Regions from separate parts of the Homo sapiens genome. Here region 2 is linked to region 1. The links come from fine-mapping of genetic effects on gene expression. A gene starts in region 1. The other region holds a variant in brackets. All regions are shown on one strand. Distances are from middle to middle.

Region 1 (5,369 bases):
GGATTAAGAACATCCCTGCCTCACTGCTGGATGTTTGGCTACTGGCTAACGGTAGCTTCTGAGCCTAAAGACCAGCGTTCAACTGATTTTATCGCACAAATAGCCAAGCAACATTCTCTAACAGGTGCGCTGTCCTTCCCTGGGCAGGGGAAAGGCAGCAAGACCACCCAAATAAGGCTCCTCTGGAAGGTTCCAGAAGCTTCCAAGGGGTGCCAGAAACACCTGGACTCTCTGAAGCATCTAAATAAAGACCTGGAGCAGAATGTCCTCAGGCCCTAAAGCTTGAGTTTACCCAGAAGACAACAGGTGGCTTGTGTTCTGCTCAGTTCTAGGCCAGAGCAACGGGTGTCTTCAAAGGTTTCCACTCACAAAAGATCCAATTCAGATGGATGCCTTCAGCTCCCTCTCCCATCCAAAAGGGAGATTAGACTCCAGATTCTCTTTCCTGAATATCTTTTCTCCTGTGAGTTGTATTGCTTGGATTGAGAGAACTGTCTCTGGGCAAAGACAGTTCAGCAACAGTGGCACAGATGAAAATATAAGTGCTTCCGGAACCAAAACGATACTCCTCACCATGTTGTAACCCCACCTATAGGGTCTTCTGATAGCATGCCCAGCGTCAAAGCCAGCAGACACCATGCATAAACACCCAGACTTACCCAAAAGAGACACACACGGATGACTCATCATGCCTCAGAACTACTCCAAGGGATCAGCCTGGCAGGTAAGGCCCCATCTGTTGGATTGCAATAATTCAGGTGAACAGAAGCAGACCTGTGTGCACCTCCCAGGAACATGTCCCCCACATTTTGGGGGATGTACTGAACTGGGCCAGATACAGGGTTCAACTGAATATATACTGCCACGATCTGGATCCACCCTAGCCAGGCCAGGATGCAACCCTTGAGCCAAGCCCTGGGCCACGCTGAGCCTGGCCTTCATGTTCTTTCCACCTGACAGGCCAGGAGGCGGAAGTGAAGGCCCCACGTGGGCCCATCCCGTCCCGTCCCAAAGCAGCAAACAGGCTGCTACTCGAAGTAGCAGAATCCTGAAGGGCCTAAAGAGAGGGTGTCTCACCAGGAAAGTCTGTCTCTCTTGGGGTATTTGTGTCTGTGTGTGCCTTTTTCTGTATGTGTGGGTGGGAAGGCATCTGTTTCCTCTCACTTTGCCTGGGCACCTGTCTCTTTCTGTTTGGGTTTCTATCTTATTTCCTTTCTATAAAAAGCCAGAAGGTAGACCAGAAGGGGATTTTGTAGTGTTTGTTGTACTTAATTGAGGAAAGCTTTGTGTTCCCATTTCTCCAAGAAGATTCATGGCATCTTACTAAAAATCGAAATAAATTTTAAGTATAGCTTCCTTTAGGTAACATCGCCTGGATACAAAGGTCGAAATTGGGGGTGGGGTGGGATGCTATGCAAATTGCAAAGAGCCCAGGGCCATCCAAGGAGCCCAGGCAGGTTTGGGTAAGGGCTGGATCACTGGGTGAGAAAGTTGGTGTGGAGTTCACTAAGAACTCATGTGGGAGTTTCGCAGGTTTGGGAGAGACCAAGGAGTCTGCATTTTTCAACAAGCACCCCAGGAGATTATGATGCAGAGCTGCACCTCCTTAACACTGGGCCTGTCTAGAATCTGGAGGTTCCCAGATTCTCCAACTCTCAGAATCTCTGTTACTGACAGGATTCCTGCCCAGGAACCTGCTGAAATGGGAGCCCACTATCTCTGAGTCTGTGCTGATGGTTAGAAGAGAATTCACAAGTTCTGGTAGATTTCCAAGGGGTCCCTCACAGACAGAAGGCTGCAAATTACTGCTCAATAGGGTTCTATATATAAAACTCAGTGTCTGACCCAGTTCAGTACATCCCCCTAGTAACATTTTGTGGGGATGTACTGAACTGGGCCAGATACTGTGCAAGTGGCTTCTACTTGAAGGTCCAATGTTGCAGGGTTGGGGGAAGGTGAGGGTGGGGAGGGGCTGAGGCAGCATTAGTACCTAGGGGAGGTGCTGTTCCAGCAATCCCATCTGAAATTCTCTTGTAAAGGAAAAATGTCGGGCTGAGGTTGAAGAGGAAATGTTTCATTGACTAAGGAGACTGGAGGGGGCCGCATGCCCAGCTAGGTCAAGGCTGGCTGGAGGGCTTCAGTTGGAACAAGGTGGCAGGGTGGGACCTCTGGGAAGTGGGCCAGGAATGGGGGCAGGGGGTTGTTTGAAAGGGACCATGGACTTTGGGCGGCAGGCGAGTGGGGGGTGTGTGTGGAAAAGATATATAATTAATCACCCAAATATAGACTGGAGGAGCCAGCAAAGGAGTTTAAGGGGGCGGGGGCACTGAAGTGGGAGATGGCGGCCCCCAGTAGGGCGACAGAAAAAGACTGGTTCAGACAGAGGGCCTTGAGCTCGGCTCACCGCCCCCTTTCCCCTGCCTCTCCACAGCTCTCTCTCTAGGCTACCTACCGGCCCCCATTCTCCCCACCAAGCTGAGGCTTAACCGCCCCCCCCCACTCCCACCCACTCAAAAGGAAAGGAGGGACTCCCCAGCGGGAACTGTTCCCACCTGGCCCACCCTCCCAGCTCCCAGACTGCGGCTCAGTCCCTCCCCTAGACCAGGGAAAAGTCCTTTAACCCCCACCCCTACAATGCCCCCTCCAGATCGGGCTCCTAGGAGCTAGGGGCAGGGGTCCTTTCTCTCCGCCCCTGAGCGGTTCCCATCTCCTAGCGTCCCCCAAAGAGCAGAGCAGGCCTCTACACTTTAGCGATTCCCACCCGGGATCGCCGCCCCCCGCCCGCCTCGGGAAGGCCTTCGGGCCTCTTCGTACTCGTCATCCGGGACCCGTTCCCTGCTCTGGCCCGCCCAAGGCCGAGCAGCTCTCCAACTGCCCAGAGACGCCCCCTCCCTCCACCGTGCACTCTTCTGCGGCCCGCACACTCGCTCCAGCCCCGCACACAGTCCTGCACCCCCTGCACATCCTCTCGCGGCCCTGCACGCTCACTCAGGTCCACACGTCCTCCTGCCGCCCCCACGATCACCTCCGCCCTGCGGCCCCTCCAGCGCCCCCCGCACATCCTCCCGCGGCCCGCACACTCACCCAGGCCCGGCGGCGGCCGACGCGCGGCCCTCGGTGGAGCGGCGCTGGCGCGGCCCAGGCAGGCCTGGCGTGGCAGGAAGCGCCACGGAGCCGCCCGTGCCCAGCCGAGCTAACAGCCCCGCGGCGCGTTTCCGGAGCCGTGAGCGCCGCCGGGGGTTCTGAGGGAGCGAGGCCCCGCCCCGGCCCCAGTCTCGTCCCCGATTGGCCCGGGAAGGGGGCGTGGCGGGAAGGGGGCGGGGTTTGGGCGGGGGCGGACTGGGCAGGCAAGTCTGATCAGCCTGCGGGGGAGCGGCGCGCGCGGGCTGGACGCTTGGGTGGAGGTGGGGAGGAGTGGAATGAGCGTGCGAATGAATGAATGAACGAGCGAACAAATCGACCAGCAGACGAAGGAAGGAACGAAGGAATGGAAGGGACCTCTCCCCCTTGGGCATCTTCAAGATGGTGGTGGGGGGAGTGAAGGGTCGGGAACTGAGGGCGAAGACTGGAAAGCCAGTATTCTGTATGAATGGAATCAGATCGTATGTACTATTGTGTGTCTGGATTCTTTCATTCAACGTGATGTTTTCAAGATTTATCTATGTTGTTGAATGTGCTATCGCTGAGTAGTATGCTATTGTTTGGATATATCAGAGTTGGTTTGTTCATTCACCAGGTTATGATCTGGGCTGTTTCCAGTTTGGGCGATTATAAATAAAGCTACTATGAATATTCATGTACACATCTTTGTGTGGACATATGCTTTCATTTTTCTTGGGCAAATACCTAAGAGATGAATTGCCACATCACAGGATAGTTTTATGTTTTATAAGAAACTGCCAGAATGTATTCCAAAGTGGTTGTGCAATTTACATTCCCACCAGAAATGTATGCGAGCTCCTTTTCTTTCCCATCCTCATCAACATTTGAGGTTGTCAGCCTTTATTTTTAGCCATTTGAAAGGGTGGGAAGTGGCATCTCATTGTTATTTCAATTATCATCTCCCTGATGACTAATTATGTTGAGTATGCTTTTATGTGCTCACTGGCCATTTCTATATCTTTCTTTGTAAAGTGTCTGTTCAAGTAGTTTGCCCAATGTTATGTGCAGTATATATATATGTATATATATGTGTGTGTGTATATATAGAGAGAGAGACAAAAGAGAAAGCTAGCCCATTATGTGCAATGTGTGTGTATATATGTGTGTGTGTATGTATGTATATATATATACACACACATGTAGTTCCTGAGAAATTTTATGTTTTCAACTTTCATTTTAGATTTAGGGGGTACATGTGCAGGTTTGTTGCCTGGGTATAGTGTGTGATGTTGAGGTTTGGGGTACGAATGACCCTGTCATCCAAGTACTGAACATAGTACACAATAGTTAGTTTTTAAACCCTTGACCCCTCCTTCCCTGACCCCTCTTGTAGTTCCCATTGTTTGTTGTTCCCATCTTTATGCGCACGAGTACCCGATGTTTAGCTCCCACTTATAAATGAGAATGTGTGGCATTTGGTTTTATGTTCCTGCATTAATTCACTTAGGATAACAGCCTCTAGCTGCATCCATGTTGCTGCAAAGGACATGATTTCATTCTTTTTTTATGGCTGCATAGCATTCTGTGGTGAATGCCTACCACATTTTCTTTATCCAATCCACCACTGATGATCACCTAGGTTGATTCCACGTCTTTGCTATTGTGAATAGTGCTGTGATGACCATACAGGTGCATGTGTCTTGGTGGTAGAATGATTTATTTTCCTTTGAGTATATACCCAGTACTGGGATTGCTGGGTCAAATGGTAGCTCTGTTATAAGTTGTTTGAGAAATCTCCAAACTGCTTTCCACAGTGGCTGAAATAATTTACATTCCCATCAGCAGTGTATAAGTATCCCCTTTTCTCCACAGTCTCTCCAGCATCTCTTATTTTTTGACTTTTAAATAATGGCCATTCTCACTGGAGTGAGATAGTGTCCCATTGTGGTTTTGATTTGCATTTCTCTGATGATTAGTGATGAGAGCATTTTTTTCATATGTTTTTTGGCCACTTGTATGTCTTCTTTTGAGAAGTGTCTGTTCACGTCTTTTGCCCATTTTTTGATGGGGTTATATTCTGGATATTAGACCTTTGTCAGGTGATTTTCTCCCATTCTGTAGGTTGTCTGTTTACACTGAGATATATTTGACAGACAATAAACTGTGAATTTGTCATGTTTCAGCTAAACAACTTGATAAGCTTTCACACACACACACACACACACACACACACACACACACGTATGAAACCATCACCACAATCAAGG
Region 2 (5,369 bases), 47 kb before region 1:
TGCTGTGCTCCTCCTGCGTGCGAGTGAGTGGGGCTACGGGCCTGGTCTGAGGAGGTGGCAGGCAGTGTGGAGAGGAGTGGTGGATGGGTTGGGGGCTGCTGAGGGGCCCAGATAGCAGGAGTTCATGAGTAATGAGCGAGGTGCCTGGTGGGGTGGGGGTTTCTGGATGACGCTGAGGGGTTCAGCCTGGGCTGCTGGCATGGAAGAACCCATGGTGAGCGGGGGGATGAGCAAGACATTGGACTGGAAGTCAACCAGGTACAGCACCACCTTTCCCCCTGTGGGCAGCCTCTGCCAGGGCGCAGACCTCGCCTTGACAGCCTTCTCCTCTGGGTTCGGTCTCTCACTTCCGCCATCATGCTGGGAGAGCGTTGAGGGAGTGAATGCCTTATAAGGGGAGAGAAATGGACTCCAGGCTCCAGATGCTACTCTCGTGTCAGTCTGCCCCTGGCATGGGGTGCATGTGTGCCTGTGTGTGTGTGTGTGGTGTGTCTGGTGTGTGTGTATTCACGTGGGGGGTCTGTGTGGTGTGTGGTGTGTGTTCATGTGTGTGCTGTGTTCATGTGTGGTGCATGTGTTCATGTGTGGGTGTGGTTGTGGTGTGTTTGTTCATATATCGTGTGTGTGTGTTCATGTGGGGTGTGTGGTGTGTGTTCATGTGTGGTGTGTGTGTGATCTGTGTGTTCATGTGTGGTGTGTGTATTCATGTGTGGTGTGTGTGTTCATGTGTGGTTTGTGTGTTCATGTGGGGTGTGTGTGGTGTATGTGGGGTGTGTGGTGTGTGTGTGGTGTGGGCTGTATAGGGGGTGCAGGCTGTGGGGCGTGTGAGTTTTCATGTGTGGGGTTGTGTAATGTGTGTGTTCATGAGTAGGGTGTGTCTGTGTGTGTTCATGTGTAGTGTGTGTAGGGTGTGTGTGGTCTGTGTGGTGTGTGTGGGGTGTGATGTGTGTTCACATGTGGTGTGTTTGTGTTCATGTGTGGTGTGTGTTGGCTGTGTGGAGTGTTTTCCATGTGTGTTGTGTGTTTTCATGTGGGGATGCATGTGGGGTGTGTGTAGTGTATGTGTTCATGTGGGGTGTGTGTGTTCATGTGTGGAGGTTGTGTGATATGTGTGTTCATGTGTAGGGTGTGTGTCTTCATGTGTGGTGTGTGGGGGTGTGTGTGTGGTCTATGTGATGTGTGTGTTTGTGTGTGGTGTATTTGTGTTCATGTGTGGTGTGGGTTGTGTGGGGTGTGTTTTCGTGTGTGGTGTATGTGGTGTGTGTGTTCAAGTGAGGTGTGTGTGGTGTGTGTGTTCATGCAGGGAACTGTGTGTGGTGTGTGTTCATGTGTGGCATGTGGGGTGTATGTGTTCATGTGTGGTGTGCAGGGTGTGTGTTCATGTGTGGTGTGTGCGTGTTCATGTGTAGGGTGTGTGTGTTCATATGGGACTATGTGGAGGGTGTGTTCATGTGGGGTATGTGAGGTATATGGTATGTGTGTTCATATGGGGGGTGTGTGTGTTCATGTGGGGAGTGTATGTAGTGTGTATGTGTTCATGTGTGCTGTGTGTGTGTTCATGTGTGGTGTATTTATGTGGGGTGTGTGGGGTGTGTGTTCATGTGTGTGGTCCATGTGGTATGTGGTGTATGGTGTGTGTTCATGTGTGGTGTGTGTGATGTGTGTGTGTTCATATGTGGTGTGTGTTCATGTGTGATGTGTGTAGTGTGTGTTCATGTGAGGTGTGTGGCATGTGTTCATGTGTGGGATGTACGTGGTGTGTGCTGTGTGTGGTCTGTGTGGTGTGTGTGTTCATGTGTGGTGTGTTTGTGTGTTCATGTGTGGTGTGTGTGGGGTGTATGGTGTGTGTGTTTGTGTGTGGGGAATTTGGGGGGTTTGTGGTGCATGTATTTGCAGAGCTTCCCATAGATGGAGCCAGGCAACCAACATTTCCCAGAGGTGGGTGATGCCCTCCCACAGTGCCACACCTCCCCAGTCCTGGAACTGCATTGGGTGACAGAGACTGGGCAAGAGGCCAGAAGCCTGGCCCCCTCCCCAGCAGCTCTCACACAGCAGCTGCAGAGGCTCACCCTAGCCTGTGACTTTCTGATGTTTCCCCCTTTCTGTCTGTCCCTGGCTCTGTCCTGCCTCTCTGTCTGTGTCACACACAGAGACAGCAGAGGGGCCTCCAAGGAAAGCTGAGACCCCGCTGGGTACAAGGTAACACTGTGTGGCTTCCAAGCAAAGCCAAGAATTATCTAGCCCTTCCTGTTCTCGGAACTGTGCTGTTTCCTAGACAACGTATTTTGTGTAATCATGGTCAAGGCAACGTACATTTCTGCCCAGAATCAAGGTCACAGTATAATACTGATTCACCACGGCAACAGCAGACTACTCATCTGACATGGGAGATGAGATTTGCGATGAAAACCACATGCAGATTGCTAGTTGCCCAGCGACTCTGCACCACGAAATAGGTTTGACTCCAGTGGAATCTGGAATCATGTCCTTAAAAGACACAGAGCCCCTGGTAGTTCAACATATGTAACTGGCCAGCCAGAGCCAGCCAGGCACATGGCGCCACTGGTA[G/A]ACAAACGTGCACATGACAGGAGCCTTTCCACCTGCCCTGGCTTCAGGAGTTTAGCTCAGTCCACAAATCCACGCCAGGAGCATTTCCCTATATAAACAAGCCCTGCGATGCTCCTAGTCCATCTGAGCTCACTGTGGACCAAGAAAGGCGAATGGTAGTTCTAGAAGAAAATCTTGTCATTTAGGATTTGATCTTTTTCCTAATTTCTCAGCCCAAGATCAACTGTTGGTGACCCCCTAGCTCTCACACCTCTCTTCTCTGGCCCCCTGAAATCAGAGAGAGGCAGCAGGGCCTCCTCTATTTCAGTAAGCTTGGGCTTGGGGCCATTATGCGGTCTGTGGGTCTGAGTCCCCAAGGCCTCTGGCTTGGGCTGAAGGAGAGAAGTAGGAACTGGGGCCCTCCAGCCTGTGGGGTGAGGTCTTCATGAAGGTGAATAGCTGAACCGTCTCCCCTGGGACTCCTCCAACCCCACTGTTGCTTCCCAGGAGAAAAGGCCTTTGGTGCCTGTCTGAGGCCTTGAAAGTCAGTTTTAAGTCCACCTCCCAGACAATGGCAGGTGATGGGTCTCTGGGGGGCCCAGCTGCATTGTATTCACGTCACCAGTATCCAGCCAGAAAGGAGGCCGAGATCACCTGGGGAGGTCACCCTCACCTTCTGCTGATGCCCAGAGGAGCTAGGTGACAGATTTTGTCAAAAGATTCAAATAGCCCAGCGCACATCCCCATTGGGTGCCTGGTGCCCTCACAGGCCACCTCTGTCTCACCCTCTGGCCTGAAGGCCGCCCTCAGTGGCCCCTTGAAGGTCAGCTGACCTCTTTTCCACCTGCTTTGGTGGCTTCTATTGCAGAGCCCCGAGGCCTCGAGATTGAGAACTGGGAGGATGGCCAGTGCTGACAAGGACAGCTATCCTGGGTGACAGCTCGGCCAACAGAAACATGCTCTAACTCAGAGTCCTGTGACTTAGGCTGGGGCCGCCAGTCTGTGCACGGCTGCCCAGGAAGGGCTGCAGGCAGCTTCCGTGGCCATGCGGGCCAGGGATTACAGCCCGCCTGCCAGGAAACCCTCTCAGCTCCACTGCTTTGGTTACCAACTTTCCTCTTTCCTAAACTTACAATCTGTTTGCATCTCATGGTTCAAGGAAATGCCAGAAGCGCTTTGTAGCAGATGCAGTGCTGGGCGCTTTTCCTCACCTCACTTCATTTCCTCCTTACAAGCCATTCCCTTTGCTGATTCCTCGGGGGCTGGGTCCTGGGACACACTGGTAAGCTGGGTGGATGTGGCTCCAGAGAGCCCAGGGGACGCATGGAGGTGGCCATCAAAAAAGAACGGACTGGGAGAAGTACTGTGAAGTGACCCAGCAGGACAAAGATGACTGGCAGCTGGGCTCCAGGAAGGGGCTCTGAGTAGGTGACCCTGAATCTGAAACCTGAGCGAGGCAAGAGAGCGTTCTACAGAAGAGGGGCACATGGGCCACGGCCTCGTGCAGCAGGCAGGATGGAAATGGTTGGACATGTTAGGAAACAGAGGCTCACATTGGTGAGTGTCACGAGTGGCTCTGACGTGTTAGAGCTTGTGACAGATCCCTGCTATCTCAGAGCTCCTGTCACCAGCAAGATTTGTGACAGATCCCTGCTATCCTCAGAGCTCCTGTCACCAGCAAGATTGCTTCAGGCCCCACTTCTTTCCTGGCATGATGCCCATCTCTTTCTCTCTTGAGGCCACGAGCTTCATGAGGGTTCTCGAGGCACCCCAGCCCTTAGCCTCTGCCTCTGTGCAGTAGGTGTTGATGACACAACCATGCGTGGAGCACCCACTTGGGCTGGCCCCGGGTTAGGAGCTCAGGGCACAGACATAGAACTCAGAGTTTGGCCAAGGAGATGGAAAACTCCCTCTACACCCCACTCTCGGCATCCAGGTGACCCCAGTGATCCCTCCACCTTACCTCCCGGCCCTTGGAGGTGGGCACTCAGCAGTCTTCTCCCCACTACTCCCTCCCGGCCCTGCATTCTTGCCTGGGCTCTCCTCCTCCCCCAGGCCTCCCACTGTGCCCCTGCCCTTGGCCCTTGCGTCTGCCTTCTCCTCCACCTCCTGCCTTGGGCAAGGCTGGCATGCATCCAAGGCCATGGCCCCATGTGCCACAGTGGGAAGGCGAAGGGGCCGCACCCCCTCTGCCCTGCGATGTCACGTCTGGCACTGCACTCCTCCCCTTTAGGCCTGCCCCATCTAGTCATGCTTGTCTGGAGTGTCCCTGCTGTTGTTTATCCCCCTTGCTCCCGCACTCTCATGGGTGCACCCTGGACCTGCCCACCGACCTCCCACTCCCAAGCACCCTTTCTCAATGGAAGCCTCTTCTTCCTTCCTCTACATCCCCGTGACCTTGATGGGAGAGAGCAACAGCCCTTGTCCCCGCCTACCTTGGCCCCAACCTCTTCCAGGCCTCCTTTCTTCACCATGCAGACTCCAGGACTGCCCCTCAACCGCCCCTTCAGCACTTCCCGCCACCCCTTGTTCCCCTGCCTTCAACGTGGCCGCTCCATGAAACCGCAACTGAGGACCTACAGGCAGAGGATGAAAGCGAATGCACCCATCCCCCACCCCCATTCACTGAGTCCCCACTGTGTGCCAGGGCAGGCACTATGCTGGGTGCTGGGGTACAGCAGTGAGCCAAGATCCGCCAGCCTTCCTGCCCTTGTGGAGGCAGTGGTCTAGACATTAAAAAGTAACTTCCCAGTTAGGTGACAACTACAAGTGGTGACAGTGATGTATAGGCGAATGCCAGGTGTTCTGAGAGCAGAAAAGGA

Which allele goes with the higher level. Positions count from the first base shown, and alleles are read on the strand shown. Sizes are in standard deviations (SD) of each study's normalised expression.
As copies of G replace A in region 2, the expression in pancreas of the gene that starts at base 3,217 in region 1 goes down (small effect, 0.29 SD a copy in GTEx).

What was found.
Region 2: its variant is fine-mapped to the expression of ZNF275 in pancreas (GTEx, PIP above 0.99).

The regions. Positions count from the first base shown.
Region 1 is chrX:153,332,001-153,337,369 of GRCh38, reverse strand. It overlaps ZNF275 (zinc finger protein 275), which reads right to left and starts at 3,217. Exons shown (of 4, transcript NM_001367757.1): 1 at 3,085-3,217; 2 at 660-736. The coding sequence starts at 690. MIR12129 (microRNA 12129) reads right to left here and starts at 1,908; the gene lies at 1,833-1,908. RefSeq lists silencers at 2,884-2,963, 3,054-3,423.
Region 2 is chrX:153,379,004-153,384,372 of GRCh38, reverse strand. No RefSeq gene overlaps it. Among named protein-coding and RNA genes, the nearest start is that of PNMA6E, 20 kb to the left of the region's middle. The variant G/A (reference allele first, on the strand shown) is at 2,569.